Homo sapiens: one gene and its partners. The protein of the gene in region 4 purifies or fractionates together with the protein of the main gene of each other region. This does not show direct contact. Each region holds a gene or a part of one and is shown on either strand. Other genes may lie near its edges.

Region 1 (4,071 bases), on a different chromosome or scaffold from region 4:
GAATGTCAGGGTCACATTTGGTTAAGCTTTATACACTTTGTCCCCTCCATAAAAGCAAATAAAATCAACTCATTGCTTAATTCCTTTAATAATTTTGTGTTCAATAAAGTAAGGCAGTTAGGTATTATGTCAAGATTAGGACTTAACTGTTTCACCAAGGGTTAAAAACAAAGCCACCAATTTAAGCCCCTAAAAGGTTATAATACCCGCTGGTTCCATCTTAAAATCTGCAATTTTCAATCAACATGTTAACTTGGATCGGAATTCTGACATTTGAATTATTCTATTTTAAGCTCCAAAAAATGGACACGCACAATTTTATGCAACGTCAAGGACCTGTAAATTTAAATACACTTCTCTGTAATCTGGTTCACTTCAGAGTACAAATTCATTGAACAAAAAAATGCCTTCATCGCCATATGCATTCACATGAAGCCACATGGGATAAATGCATTTCCACTTTAAAAAGTATCTACTTTGGTTCAGAAATGCCCATTTAAGAAAAACCTACACTGAGATAAAGTGGACATTTTTCTTTTAAAACTACGTGACAGGATTCCCTCTTGACCTCACGTTTCTCCCCGCCACGTATTTAAATTTGGGGCAAAATTTCTGATTAAATGACTGATCAAAGTAATGGGGAGAATTCTTCAACGCCGGCCAAAAGTGCTTAGTCTCAAACGCTGTGAGGGAGCATTTCCTAAGCTTTGGGCGACTCGTTAACGGAATCTTAAGGGCAAGGTCCAACCACACTCAGAATCAGCAGGAAAATGACCGTTTGGTAAAACTCAATTACACCCAGTAGGCACCTCCCCAGGCCCGAAACAGCACTCGCCCTTTCTGCTCAGCTAGCGCGGGACATCGCAACGCCCAAGGCCCTCCTATCTCAAAGGCGCTTGCGCAAAATCTCCCCACAGACTCAATTAAACCCTTCCTTAGGCCGGTCGAGGCGAATGGTTTTGAAATTACTGTCGGGTTACGCCTCACTTTAAAAAACAGTAGGTATGACACAGCACACCAGAACGACCACTCACCGAGGTGGTCCTAAATTCAAACGACAGATTTAAGCTTCCTCTCGTGATTTATCTCGCGCTGCCGGAAGCGGAACTACCCGGGTCCTTTAGAGGGCAGTCCTTTGGGGAACCTTGGAACCACGGTCAGAAAGGTTAGGACTGATCATTTGGCTCTTGCCGGAAATCGTTCCGCCCGGTGAGGTTTCGGCGTGAGACCCGAGGAGGGCGGGGAAGAGGCGTGACGGAGATTCCTGAGGTGTAGTAGCCTGAGGTTCCCTTATGTGGCCCTATAGCTGTTACTGAAGGAAGTAGCCTACGTCCACGCCTACAACTGAAGTCTCTTGACAAACACCTCACCCCTGCCTCCGGGATGAAAGGGGGTAACCTAGACCTGAATGGGCTTGACCATCTCACAACTGCTCGCGTGACGACCGCATTCGTGGCAGGTGAGGGCCCAAAACCGGAGGAGAACCGGAGATGCGGAACCTGATCATGCCAGGGTTGAGGCGGCTGCTGGGCTTCTGCTTTGTCTCCTGTGCTCTGCAGACCCTAAACACATGCTCCACCGAGGGGCTTGTGCTGGAGAGAATGACAGCCTGGGCGTGGAGTGACAGTACAGCTTTGAGGGTCCTTTCGCGCCTTGATTTCTCCTCCTGCTCCCCCATGGCTTCCCTTTTTCATTTCTTGGGTTCGAGACGCCAGAAATTGAAGATCAGCTAAAAGGGAACCGCTGAGCTTCTACCCCACGCTGTGCCTGGCTCCACTGAAGTGATTAGCCTCGAGTTATGGGACTGCTGTGGGTAGAGGTGGCTTTTTAAAAAATTTTCTGCCTTAGTCTTTATCCCTCTCTCTGTCAACCCCACACCCACTTTAAAATAACAAAAGCCTCATGTGTTGCAGCTTTTCATAGTAGGGACCGAGGCTGCAGGGCACTGCCGCACCTAGTCATTTGGAGGTCGTTGCAGCCTTCTGCGCCTTGAAGAAGAAGGGGCCAGGGTGATGATCCCTGGATCTCATTCACGAGGTTCTTGACCACTTCCTGGGAGATTGCGACTCTTGGTGTCCTTTGGCTAGTAGTTGTCTTGCTGGAAGGCTTAACTGTGGAAGTGGGAAGCATAGCTGACCTTAGCACGTAAAATCCTCGCTCTACACTGGGACAGGATTTTGTTTTGCTATTGAGAATTCTTAAATGAAATAGATAATTTTTTTGTCTCAGATAGATAAAATAATAACGATAGTTGCCATTAACTGAGTCTTATGTGTGCCGAGTGCTTTACATAGTTTGTCATTTATTCCTCTCAACAATTCCAGGAGGTATGTTAGATTATTATCACCATTTTACAGAGTTAGAAATGGAGGCTTTGAACAGTCAAGCAACTTGCTCTATTAAACATTTGTTATAAGTAAACGTTTGAATCTGTGTTAAAAACCAGATCTGTCTGCCTTCAAAATCTGTATTCTATTGTCCTGTCCTGTTCTTCCTCGATTTCAATTTCTTCACTAACATTTTCAGTGTCTGAAAGTATCCATTCATTTAAAAAATTTTGGTGTACCTACTTATATGTCTGACAAAAGTTAGACATGATCTCTGTCTTTATGGAGCATTGTGATGCAGAATTAAGTAGTGCAGAACCCAGAATACTGTACTTACTGCAGCACAGGTTTATTTAAAGCAAATGACTAAACTGATTTGCAGAAAATTTTAAAATCAAAGGTTGCTGTTTTAAATGTTAAATTCATATGACTTTCAGAGTAGTTGTTGTGAGGGTATTAAACTGAACAATTGGTAGAACATCTGTTGATTACCCAAATAAGTGCTATGAACCAAGTTAAGTAGTGGGAATATATAGATTAGGTCCTCATTCTTTAAAAGCTCCCATGCAACCACAATATAGACAATGTTATGGACTATTAATTTTCTCACGTGGAAAAGGAATTGTGGTTATGTAGGAAGGTGTTCTTATTTTTAGCAGATACATACTAACGTACTTAGAGTTGAAGTGTGTTGATATCTAGTACTTTCAAATGGTACAGCAAGTGTATGTGTGTGTATGTGTCTGTGTGTATAAATAGCAAATATGGCAAAATGTTGGCAATTGTGAGTATAATGGTGGGCATATAGATGATTAACAAACTGTTCTTTCAACTTTTCCGAATATTTGAAATTTTTCATAATAAAAAGTTGGGGAGGAAAAAACCCAACCCTGATGGAAACAGATAAGTGAAAAGATAGATCCAAAATGCTGCGGAACATAGAAGATGGGAGAGGGTTTTTATGTGTATTTGGGGCCTAACAGAAGTGTGATAGTTCTCAGGAAAACCTTCACTGAAGACCTTTCAGTTGGTTTTTGAATGGCGGATAGGAACTTTCAAGGAGAGCAGTGAATTCCAGGCAGAAGGAAATGCAGGTTCAGCAAAAAGATATTAAATGAACGTTTGAAGAAGGAAAAAGAAATCAACAAGAAGGTTGTGTGGAACTTGGAATAGGCTTTTTTTGTGTAATCTTATAAATGAGCCAGGTTGCCTTTGCCAGCCTGCAGAAGCCTATTTATTCCCTATTACCTGGATGTACTATTGGTGGAAAGGAGACACCATTTATAACAGTGTTTCCATTGGAAAATGCTTTTGGAATTTCAGGAAAACTGGTTATGTGTTTGCGTTTAGGCTAAGCAGCAGGAGCAGGAGCTCCCATTTCCTCTGATTTTGAGAGCAGAGATTTACTAGTTTATAGTTGGGCTCCTGAGGGAACCCATGAAAAGGGCTACAGTGATGGCTTGGAAATATTAAGTTCAGGTAAGGGGGATCTGAATACTAGGTGGGACTGATGGATGATCCAGGGTGTTATTTTGAGGATCAGGTAGCTCTGGCCGTGACCAGTAAAGGTATGGAAGAGATGATTATCCCAGGCAGTAGTGTTCATGATAGTCTCAAGCAGTGTGGTAAGACTAGAAAAGGTGTAAAGAGGTCTCCAACAACAGCAGTGGCAAACGGGAGTTTCTGTGGCTTCATTAGACAAGAGGTAAGTAGATACATTCTAAATTGAGTTATTTATATTTGT
Region 2 (3,500 bases), on a different chromosome or scaffold from region 4:
CCTGGGGGACAGAGCGAGACTCTTGTCTCAAAAAAAAAAAAAAAGAAAAAAGAACTAGAGATAGTAGGCTTGAAGGATGCCTTTTAAGTTCTTTTTGAACAATCATTTGCCTTTTCAGGTACAGAAGTCCAGTGCCCTGTAAGTTCACTTCCTTCAGGGCCCAAATTCTGAGCTCTGAAATAAAACAAAAAGCACCTGGTAGTTCAGGTAAAGGACTTTCCAGCATGTTGTGTGAAGTTGACAGCTTCCCATTCACTAACCCTGAGTGACTAACACGTTTGATATTCAGGAGCCTGCTGCATTTGACTTTGGTTTGGGCTGTGCTCACCAACCATAATGGCGCCGAACCTCCGGCTGCCTCCCTTTGCAGAGTTTTTGAGCTCCCTTCAAACATGGGAGGCTGGACTTGATCACGGCTGCCTATGTTGTTTGTTTTCTTTCCTGGAAGGTGAATCCTAAGCTTATGAAAGCCAGTGTACTCTATTGACAAAGCCTAAGCTCATGGTTTTAAAAAAGCCAGAGAAGCTGCCTGTGAGGGCACTGAATTCTATCCCCACTTCGGCCATGTGTGTCCTATAGCACTTTCCCATGCAGAGTTTCCTGGAAACAAACAAACAACAACAAAAAAGGAAAGCAGCTGGGTGTGGTGGTGCAGGCCTGTAATCCCAGCTGCTTGGGAGGCTGAGGTGGGAGAATTGCTTGAGCCTGGGAGGTTGAGGTTACAGTGAGCAGTGATCACACCACTCCACTCCAGCCTGGGTAACAGAGCTAGACCCTGTCTCAAAAAAAGAAAGAAGGAGCCGGGTGTGGTGGGTCGCGCCTGTAATCCCAGCACTTTGGGAGGCTGAAGCGGGTGAACGATGTGAGGTCAGGAGTTCGAGACCAGCCTGGCCAAGATGGCGAAACCCCGTCTCTACTAAAAATACAAAAATTAGCTGGGCATGGTGGTGTGCGCCTGTAATCCCAGCTATTAGGGAGGCTGAGGCAGGAGAATTGCTTGAACCTGGGAGGTGGAGGTTGCAGTGAGCTGAGATGGTGCCACTGCACTCCAGCCTGGGCAACAGAGCAAGACTCCATCTCAAAAAAATAAATAAGTAAAAAAGAAAGAAAGAAGGAAGGAAGGAAGGAAGGGAGGGAGGGAGGGAGGGAAGGAATGGAGAGAAGGAGGAAAGGAAGGGAGGGAAAGAGGGAAGGAGTAAAGAGAAGGGAGGGAGGGAGGAAAGGAAAGGAAGAAGGGAGGGAGGAATGGAGAGAAGGAAGGGAGGAAGGAAGGAAGGATCCCTTAAATTCCCGAAACCTAACTGTGGGTCCATGTGGGTGTCCACTTCTGTTTTACAGACTGAGGAGCTCGGGTTTTCCTGTCCACCTGCTCCCAGACATCGCCGAGCCTGGCAGTGTGGCGGGCAGAACTTCCCACATGTGGTTTGAAATCCCAAAGGGGACGCAGGTGGGAGTGGCCTTGGGTGATTTACAGGCCTCTGTCTATTCCTGCATGGCCCAGAGGACAGATGCAGGTAAGTTTTTCTTTTGTTCTGTCCTCAGACTTACACTGTCGCCTGCCTCATAAGCACCAGCTCTGTGCGAGTCTGCAGGGCACACAGAGCTTAGCAGTCTTGGCATCCTGCTGGAGATCATTATTCTGTAAAGATGAAAAGCACCCTTGTCCTTGCAGGTAAAATCCTCTATTGAGGGAGCTTACAGGCCAGCAGGGCAAGTTCTGTCCCTGAGCACCAACCATCTGTGCTGACCACCTCTGGGGCTGGGTGAGAGAAACGGCTCTTTCTAGCTTTCTGGTTTCTATGTGACTCCGGGCCCAAGAAAACAGATGAGCTGATGAGGGTTTTGGTTACTGTGTTGGAAGTGATGTCAGATCTGATTAGAAGTGCAGGATAGGCTGGGCGCGGTGGCTCACGCCTGTAATCCCAGCACTTTGGGAGGCCGAGGCAGGCGGATCACGAGGTCAGGAGTTCAAGACCAGCCTGGCCAAGATGGTGAAACCCTGTCTCTACTAAAAATACCAAAATTAGCCAGGTGTGGTGGTGGGTGCCTGTAATCCCAGCTACTCAGGAGGCTGAGGCAGAGAATCGCTTGAACCCGGGAGGCGGAGGTTTCAGTGAGCTGAGATCACATCACTGCACTCCAGCCTGACGACAGAGCGAGACTCCATCTCAAAACAAAACAAAACGGCCGGGCGCAGTGGCTCATGCCTGTAATCCCAGCACTTTGGGAGGCCAAGGCAGGTGGATCACGAGGTCAGGAGATCGAGACCATCCTGGCTAACACGGTGAAACCCCATCTGTATTAAAAAAAAAAATAGAAAAAATTAGCCAGGCATAGTGATGGGCGCCTGTAGTCCCAGCTACTTGGGAGGCTGAGGCAGGAGAATGGTGTGAACCCGGAAGGCAGAGCTTGCAGTGAGCCGAGATCGTGCCACTGCACTCCGGCCTGGGCGACAGAGCAAGACTCTGTCTCAAAAAAAAAAAAAGAAGTGTAGAATATTTTCTGTATTCATAGTAAGGGAATCATGGTGAGGTAGAGGCAGCTGTGTCTAGGGCAGGGATTGGCTCTTTTACTCTAAAGGGCAGAAAATATTTTCTGTAAATATTTTCGGCTTTGCGGATCATGCCGTCTCTGTTGTAACTGCTCAGCTGTGCTGTAGGAATTCAAAAGCAGCCATAGACGATATGTAAATGAGCGGGTGTAGCTGTGTTCCAATAAAACATTGTTCATAGACACTGAAATGGGAATGCCACATAATTTTCATGTGTCATGAAAAATTCTTCTTTTAATTTTTTTTCAACCATTTAAAAACGTGAGAACGTGGGACGATATGGCGCTTGGCGGCGCTGGGAGGCCGGAGCCCAGGGCTCGTGGCCATGTTGTCAGGTGCTCACAGGTAGACAGCAGAGGAGAGGAACCAAGCTATACTCAATCTTAAAGCAGCAGGATGGTCAGAATTAAGTGAGAGAGAGATGCCATCTACAAATCATTCTTCTTCCAAATTTTTTTTTTTTTTTTGAGATGGAGTCTCACTCTGTCGCCCAGGCTGGAGTGCAGTGGTGTGATCTCGGCTCACTGCAATCTCTGCCTCTGGGGTTCAAGCGATTCTCCTGCCTTGTCCTCCCGAGTAGATGGGACTACAGGCGCACACCACCATGGCTGGTTAATGTTTGCATTTTTAGTAGACACGGGGTTTCACCATGTTGGCCAGGATGGTCTCAATCTCTTCACCTTGTGATCTGCCTGCCTTGGCCTCCCAAAGTGCTGGGATTACAGGTGTGAGCCATCGTGCCCGGCCTCTCCGTCCAAATTTTTAATCAGGCATTTGGCTTTATGTCCCGAGTTGCCCTACAAGCAGAGAAGATGAATCATCACCCGGAATGGTTCAATGTATAAAACAAGGTCCAGATAACTCTCACCTCACGTAACTGTGGTGGACTGATCAAAAGAGATGTGAAGCTGGCCACGTTTATTGAAAAAGCAGCTTCTTCTGTGTGATT
Region 3 (4,152 bases), on a different chromosome or scaffold from region 4:
GAATGAGGTCCAGGTTGGAGATGTGGCTGCAGGAGCCGGCAGCACAGCATGGAAAGTCGCCTGGAGTGAGTGGATAGGAACAGGACGAGGAGAGTCTGGAACGCTCCACTAACCAGTGGTTAGAGGAGCAGGAGCTAGGAGGGGCCTGGGAAGGAGCAGCCAAGATGCCCTCATGAAGGAAAATGAGAAAATGTTTCAAGAAGGGCGTGGGCAACTGTGACGAATGTTGCTGGTAAGAACAGAAGTGCCATGATTGGATCTGGCAATATGGCAGTCATTAGCAGTTCCCCAGTGGTGAGAAGCGAAGCCTTATTGCAGTGGCTTAAGGAGAAAATGCGAGGTGCGAGATTGCCATTAGATTCTTGCATGAAGGTTTGTCATGAGTGCTGCAGAAAAATGGGCAATGGCGTCTAAGGTGTGTTCTTGAAGGATGAGTAGTAACTGGTCAAGTGAAGAGGTGGAGAGGTAGGCTCTCTAAGGAGGATGTATTTGCAAAGCCATTAGAGCAAGGGAACAGAAATGAAATAAGTGTGTATTTTTCTTGCAATATTTCTGGAAGTTCAAGAGTCAATTGCATGCATTGGGGTTGTGCTCTTACAGCAGTCTCATTTAAATCCTGTCTGCTTTATCGTTATTTGTTAAAGAGACTGAGGGAATGGCTGAGATAATCTGATCTTTTTCAACTCGTTGGTTTGAAAAGACATCTAGGATGGTCAAGCGGCTGGACTTTATTAGCTACATTGAAAAATTCAGAATGGGATAGGGGAAGCTTGTTTTTATTCTAAGACTAGCACATTACAGTGTATGGGGAAGGGAGAAACGATGAAAAGAGGAAACAAGAGGAAGTTTAAAAAGTACAGGGTAGCACTGCAGAATGCCGACACTGCAAAAGTCTGGCGAGCGGGGAGGTGGAGGACAATGTCTCACCTGGGATCCGAGCTGTGAAGTCTCAACTGTGCCCATATGGACTGCATGAGCTTAACAAAATCCTTATTCTTTTTTTTTTTTTTTTGCATTTGCTTTCCATACTCTAAACACGTTTAACGTCGTTTGCCTCACAAGATTGCTCTGAAGGTGCAGGGAGACCGCGGCAGCACACACAAGGCACGTGCGATGCCTACGGTGAGCTTCACCTGCCCGGCGCGTCTGGCGAACGGCTGGCCCCGGGCCGCGGGCCTCAGGCAGGTCCGAGGGTGCCCAGGACAGGGTCGGGGCTTGAATGCCTTTGCTTCCGAAAACAGCGGAGCCGTGGGGCCTCCCCCGCGCCGGCCCTGCCTCCAACCAGCCGCCCAATCCCGGCTCCCATGCGCGTCCACGCCTCCCTATAAGATAAAGCGCGGCCGACGGGCTCCGAGCGCGGCCCCTGGGTTCGAACACGGCACCCGCACTGCGCGTCATGGTGCAGGCCTGGTATATGGACGACGCCCCGGGCGACCCGCGGCAACCCCACCGCCCCGACCCCGGCCGCCCAGTGGGCCTGGAGCAGCTGCGGCGGCTCGGGGTGCTCTACTGGAAGGTACGCGAGCCCAAGCCTCGCAGAGCGTGCGGGCGACGCCGACCCCCAAACGCCGCGCACAGCCCAGCCTCCTCCAGGTGCCGGGCAGCGGCCTGGGAGCCGCGGCATGCTGCGCATGCTCAGCAGCGGGATTTGGGGGTTCGTGGCGGCTCCCGGTGCCTGGGGTGGGCTGCGCATGCTCAGCAGTGGGGCTGGGTGGTCAGGGCCTCCTGCGCGGCGCCTGGGTGTGCTGCGCATGCTCAGCAGCGGCGTTGAGGGGTCGGCGGTCAGCCCCCAGCGCCTGTGGTGTGCTGCGCATGCTCAGCAGCGAAGTTTACGGGGTTGGCGGTCGGCTTCCGGCGCCTGGGGTGGGCTGCGCATGCTCAGCAGCGGGGCTGGTGGGGGTCGGCGGTCCGTTTCTGTTGCCTGGGGTGTGCTGCGCATGCTCAGCAGCAGAGTTGGCGAGTCAGGGGCCTCGCAGCCGGGACTCGCTGCGCACGCGCAGCTCCGGGATTGGCAGCGACCTGAAGGGTCGGCCGGCAGGGCTGCAAGATTCGCCGGAGGCGGGCTGCGAGTTCGTGGGCTCGTTGGGCTTGTCCGACGCCCTGCCTGCCTGGCTAACCTCGGTCAAAGGCCCAGGGGTTTCTTCTATCGGAGGAAGGGGGACTCCGCTTGAAAGTGTCCTGGGGGAGGGACCGGGCGCCAGCAGATCGAGGCGGGGTCCTGCCGCGGTCTGTCGGGGATCCCCGGGGGGTAGCGCTCGGTGGTGGGGTGGGGGCGTCTCCAGTGGGCGGTGGAGCTGGCTTGGGTCCCGGCTGGGCCCGGTGTCAGCCCTGCCTCTGTAACGCTAGCTTTGCAAGGCGGGGCTAGGCTTTGCACCGGTGTCCCGTTGCTTGCACAGCACCAGTCCAGATCCGCTCACCTTGTTTATTTGCAAATGGTTTTGCAGTAACAAAGGTTTACTGCAAAAGAGAGGGCCAGGGTAGGCCTCAGGGATAGGCTGAGGGGTGACTGGATCTAATCTTCATTCATGTGATTTAAATGAAATACACAGGGTTACCTGGACACCACACTTTTTCCCTTGGGAAAGGATTATAGAATATTCCAGCATAATCTATTTGGATATCATCTTGTTCTATCCTAAATAACAGAAGAGGGAAGTGACAATTGGCATACCAGTGCGAAACAGGGCATGCATGTTAATGTTTACATAGTATTTGTCTTTTCCTAGGATAAGGTTTAACACTTACCTTGCTGGAGGGTACTTCTTCAAAGCAATCAAGTGGTTTATAGTTTTCCATTAATGAGAGGAGAATAAATTTTGACTTATTATGTTTATCCACAATCCAAACAACCAGAGGGTTCAAATTAATACACTTGGGGAGTTTCATTGTGCATTTGACGGTTTTAAGAACAAGAACAAGAGTGAGATTACAGGTCAGCTTCTTAATGTATTCAAAGAATAAAATAAGATTTATTTTAATAGACATCTTTTAGATTATTACATGGGCTCAAACATAGTTTTTCCTACCGTCTAGTTCTGCTCTGAGTCAGGGCTATCAAAATTAAATCATGTTTACTCTGTGGTTTTAATGTCCTGTGTGTTTTTATATTCTTCCTTTCTTTTTTTTTTTTGCTCTTTTTGCCCAGGCTGGAGTGCAGTGGCATGATCTCGGCTCACCGCAACCTCATCTTCCCGAGTTCAAGCCATTCTCATGTGTCAGCCTCCCGAGTAGCTGGGATTACAAGGTGCACAGCACCATGCCGGGCTAATTTTGTATTTTTAGTAGAGACAGGGTTTCTCCATGTTGGTCAGGCTGATCTTGAACTGCTGACCTCAGGTGATCCACCCACTTCGGCCTCCCAAAGTGCTGGCATTATAGACACGAACCACCGCACCCGGCCTATATGCTTTCTTAATATCCATTCTGGATCAGTGCTGTTGGAAGACAAAATTACAACAAATTTAGTTAAAGATCTAATTAGCTTTTATTCTTGATTTGTGAATAGGGCAACCTCCGTTCTACAAAATAGAATAAGAGCTCGATAGGGTAATAGCACAACAGTGGGTTTTGTAGGGCGGCAACAAAGAAACAGAACAATAGGTAGAAAAGCTGATTGGTTAACGTCAAGTTACATTAGGTTACTTTTTTCCTAAGGGTTAAAGCAGAAGCGACTTCCTTATTATTCTGACTCAGGAAGACTGGAATCTTCTGATCGCAGGAAAAGCTGGTCTGTTTGAGATGCACCTCCTTCTTTAAAGTTTTAGTTTGATCAAGTGGCATATGGCATGAGTGGCTGCATTTTGGTTTGGTCTCATCCTGGGGCCTAGTGCAGGGGCTCAGTCCAAAACAGTGACCTCTCCTGGGCCAGGCATGGTGGCTTCTGTCATCCCAGCACTTTGGGAGGCTGAGGCGGCAGATTGCCTGAAGCCAGAAGTTTGAGACCTCATCTCTAAAAAAACCCAAAAAACAAAAAAGCCACACACACACCCCATATTAACATTATATATATGTAACATCTCCCATAATTTTTAACAGAGGTAACACATGTGGACATGTTTGTGTATCTGTTTAATCAATCTGTTATTAGTGACATAGAGTTCTAAAAAACCTTTTGTCATACATACAAACAATTGGAAGATTATTTTAGCTTGG
Region 4 (3,500 bases):
AAAGTAGTATTTATTTGTTAAGGAATAAAATAGCCATAACCTGTTCTGTAGGAAGAGTAAGGAAAACAAACTGCCATGTGAAAACCAAAGAAATCTTGCTTGACTCATTAAAGAAAAGAAACAGCAAAAGCAAGATTACTTTTTCCTAATAAGAAATTCTGCACCGGGCGCGGTGGCTCATGCCTGTAATCCCAGGACTCTTTGAGGCAGAGGCAGGCAGATCGCCTGAGGTCAGGAGTTCGAGACCAGCCTGGCCAACATGGTGAAACCTCGTCTCTACTAAAAATAGAAAAATTAGCTGGATATGGTGGCAGGTGCCTGTAATCCCAGCTACTCGGGAGGCTGAGGCAGGAGAATTGCTTGAACCTCGTGGGTGGAGGTTGCAGTGAGCCAAGATTGCACCACTGCACTCCAGCCTGGGCGACAGAGCAAGACTCCATTTCAAAAAACAGAAAGAAATTCTGTTGTCTTTCCCTATTACTATGCAGAAATTTATTTATATTACTAGGAATTTATACAATGCCTCTTTTGCCAGGAATTCATGGTATTTTACATGTTTTTATAAAGTGGATGATAACTTAGAAATCCTTGTAAGTTAGATAGATCATTTTTCAGGGCCCTGAAATGTTGTGCTGTCTCACTAAAATATGATGCAAACTGCTATTCTTGCTATATAGGCATAGTTTTCTTTATGAAAAATTAAGTCATTATTGCATTTTTAGAAATCTGAGAGCAAGGACAATGTTTTGTACACCTTTTTACCCCTTTGGTGTCCTGCTTGTAGCAGATATTTGATTTTAAATAGAAGAGTGGTATTTGACTGACTAGTAGTGCTAAAGAGTCTATTAGCTGATGAGTCACTATCCCATTTTAAATGCTCTCAGAAGCCTGATTGCATAGAGATGTATCTACAAGAAATTATTTTGTAAATGGAAGGATCCTTTTACAATTAAGTAATAGCCCCTTAGTTGATCTATTTGTAAAGTCAAATTTATATATTTATTTATTTATCTTAAATCAAGATAGACTAGTGAGACTAACCTCATGCTTTGTTATGTAATGTGGAAGTGTAATAAAATATTAATCCAAGTAAGAAATCTTGCTTTTCACTATCCCATATGGAAGTGATTTGGGTATACATTATGTTATTATACAATAATAGGTAACATGAACTAAACTTGAACAGTGGTATAGGTTGAGCAGCAATGAGAAAGTGGCTGTAAGCTCATTCAAATTTTCTTAAACGTCTGTTCAAAAAAGGCAGGTAGAAAAAACACCAACTTGCCTTCATAATTGTTAATTATGGAAAGAATCATGAAGCTAAAAGTATAAATTACATGTTTAATTTTGCTTGCTATTTTAATATAAGAACAAAGGATTAAAGCTAAATTAAGGAGTATTTGGTTTTTCTGGCAGTGTTTCATCATTACGATTAGCCTATAAGGATCTTGAAATTCAAATGAAGAAAGACGAAAAGATGAACATTAGTGGCAAAAAAAATGTTGACTCAGACAGACTCGGCATGGGATTTGGAAATTGCAGAAGGTATGTGAGACTGCTTTCTTGGAGTTAGAATTTAAAACAGTGTGTCAATCATCAGTGGATTTTTCTTGGACTGTGTTAGTTTCAACTTTAGAGATTTTTTTTTGTTATTCATTAACTTCTCTAATTATTTTTGCTTTGCTCTGGTATTCAGTATAACATGAAAAATTTCAAATTTGGCTCTTTAAAAGAAGGAAAAAGGTCTGGCTCTTTACATGAAGCACCTACCAGAGAGGAAACCATGGACATAACCAATATTTGTGACTGCATTTGGTGTAGACACAGTCCTCACAAAATTTTAACATTTTTGAAAGCTTGCACCAGAAAAAAAAATTGTTTTATTGCTTATGTTTTTAACCCCTCGAATACATTTGTCTTTGTTCAAAACATAAATTAAAGCTTTGTTTATTTTGGTGAAACAAAAGTTTGTGAACTTACTGATATATATATTTTTCTGTTTTCTCAAGTGTTATTTCACATTCAGTGACTTCAGATATGCAGACCATAGAGCAGGAATCACCCATTATGGCAAAACCAAGAAAAAAGTATAATGATGACAGTGACGATTCATATTTTACTTCCAGCTCAAGGTACTGTATTACAAATCATCGTTGAAGTGTCATTTTGAAAAGCAGTGACTAGTATGGATTTATTAGTTTATTTGCATTAGGAGAAATTACAAATCAATTTACTTCACTGTTTTTAAAAGCTCTGGCTGGAGCCAGAGCTGTTCTTTGGAGTAAAAATTAGAGAAACGTTTGTAAAAGAACAACGTTGGCTAATATTAAAATGTTTGGCAATAAAATCAGCAACTGTGAGTTAAAATTAGAGGTAGGAGAGATGTGCTTATTTAAATTATGAAATTGGAGAAAACTGCAAAATCCTGAAGGTATGTGTTGTTTAGTCCAGCAGTGGGAATATTTCACAGCTCTTTCTCAGGGCTTCAGCAGATTTCTGTGCTTCAGAATGCCAGCTTCAGAAAACTCCAGTTGGTACAATAGTGCATTAAATAAACTCTATGGGTGTGTGTATTTATTAATGAGGAAGATGATTGTACTTTGAGGGGACCCCAGAGTAAAGCCTAGGTTTCTCTCCTTCAGCACTCACTATCTTATTGAGACAAAATGCATAACTCTAGTGTGAAGCTGACTGTGGAGAGCAGTGCACGGTCAAGTGGCCTGCCAGAGCAAAGAGAACAAGTTTAAACTTGAGTCAGTTCACTTCGTAAGGACCTGCTCGGCCCAGTGAGAGGTCTGCTAAAAAGGCACAAAATGAACCTGTGATTTCACTGGAGAGGGCACAGCTCAGGAACAGAGGGGTAAGAATATGGGCCCAGGGGCCAGATGGCATGGATTTGAATCCTGGCTTTCACTTACTTGTCACCTAGGCCAAGTTATTTAACTTCTTTGTGCTATAGCTTCCTCATCTGTAAATTAGGGACCCTAGTAATACCTACCCAATAGGGTTGTGTGAGGATCGAATGAGATACTGCGAATGCTATAGCACGTTTAGAATGGTGCTTGGCTCTTACTATGTTTAGCTGCTATATGATAATATAGAAACTCAGTTTAAGAGATGTGATTCAGTCTAAATGTTTTTTGTTTGTTTGTTTGTTTATGAGATAGAGTCTCACTCTGTCACCCAGGCTGGAGTACAGTAGCATGATCTCGGCTCACTGCAACCTCCACCTCCCAGGTTCAAGCAATTCTTATGCCTCAGCCTCCTGAGTAGCTGGGACTACAGGCGTGTGCCACCATACCCGGCTAATTTTTTGTATTTTTAATAGAGATGGAGTTTCGCCATGTTGGCCAGGCTGGTCTCAAACCCCTGACTTCAAGTGATCTGCTGGCCTCAGCCTCCCAAAGTGCTGAGATTACAGGCATGAGCCTCCACGCCCAGCCTAAATGTTTGATTACTATTGTTAGGTAGTTAAACTAACCACATTGAGGACCACCTTT

The links. The genes of interacting proteins can lie anywhere in the genome.
Region 1: the proteins of ARFGAP3 (region 4) and PPIP5K2 purify together in Homo sapiens (affinity purification with mass spectrometry, with the first as the bait; one large-scale study listed by BioGRID). This does not show direct contact.
Region 2: the proteins of ARFGAP3 (region 4) and SHPK purify together in Homo sapiens (affinity purification with mass spectrometry, with the first as the bait; one large-scale study listed by BioGRID). This does not show direct contact.
Region 3: the proteins of ARFGAP3 (region 4) and ADI1 fractionate together in Homo sapiens (co-fractionation; one large-scale study listed by BioGRID). This does not show direct contact.

What each region holds. Positions count from the first base shown.
Region 1 is NC_000005.10:103,119,030-103,123,100, forward strand, and holds the start of PPIP5K2 (inositol hexakisphosphate and diphosphoinositol-pentakisphosphate kinase 2), read left to right. Parts: upstream 1-1,271; 5' UTR 1,272-1,459; intron 1,460-4,071. UniProt on the Homo sapiens protein: Bifunctional inositol kinase that acts in concert with the IP6K kinases IP6K1, IP6K2 and IP6K3 to synthesize the diphosphate group-containing inositol pyrophosphates diphosphoinositol pentakisphosphate, PP-InsP5, and bis-diphosphoinositol tetrakisphosphate, (PP)2-InsP4.
Region 2 is NC_000017.11:3,619,251-3,622,750, reverse strand, and holds part of SHPK (sedoheptulokinase), read left to right. Parts: intron 1-1,338; coding exon 1,339-1,514; intron 1,515-2,822; exon of another isoform or gene 2,823-3,000; intron 3,001-3,306; exon of another isoform or gene 3,307-3,500. UniProt on the Homo sapiens protein: Acts as a modulator of macrophage activation through control of glucose metabolism.
Region 3 is NC_000002.12:3,516,732-3,520,883, reverse strand, and holds the start of ADI1 (acireductone dioxygenase), read left to right. Parts: upstream 1-1,352; 5' UTR 1,353-1,396; coding exon 1,397-1,516; intron 1,517-3,136; exon of another isoform or gene 3,137-4,152. UniProt on the Homo sapiens protein: Catalyzes 2 different reactions between oxygen and the acireductone 1,2-dihydroxy-3-keto-5-methylthiopentene (DHK-MTPene) depending upon the metal bound in the active site.
Region 4 is NC_000022.11:42,815,774-42,819,273, reverse strand, and holds part of ARFGAP3 (ADP-ribosylation factor GTPase-activating protein 3), read left to right. Parts: intron 1-1,416; coding exon 1,417-1,545; intron 1,546-2,009; coding exon 2,010-2,132; intron 2,133-3,500.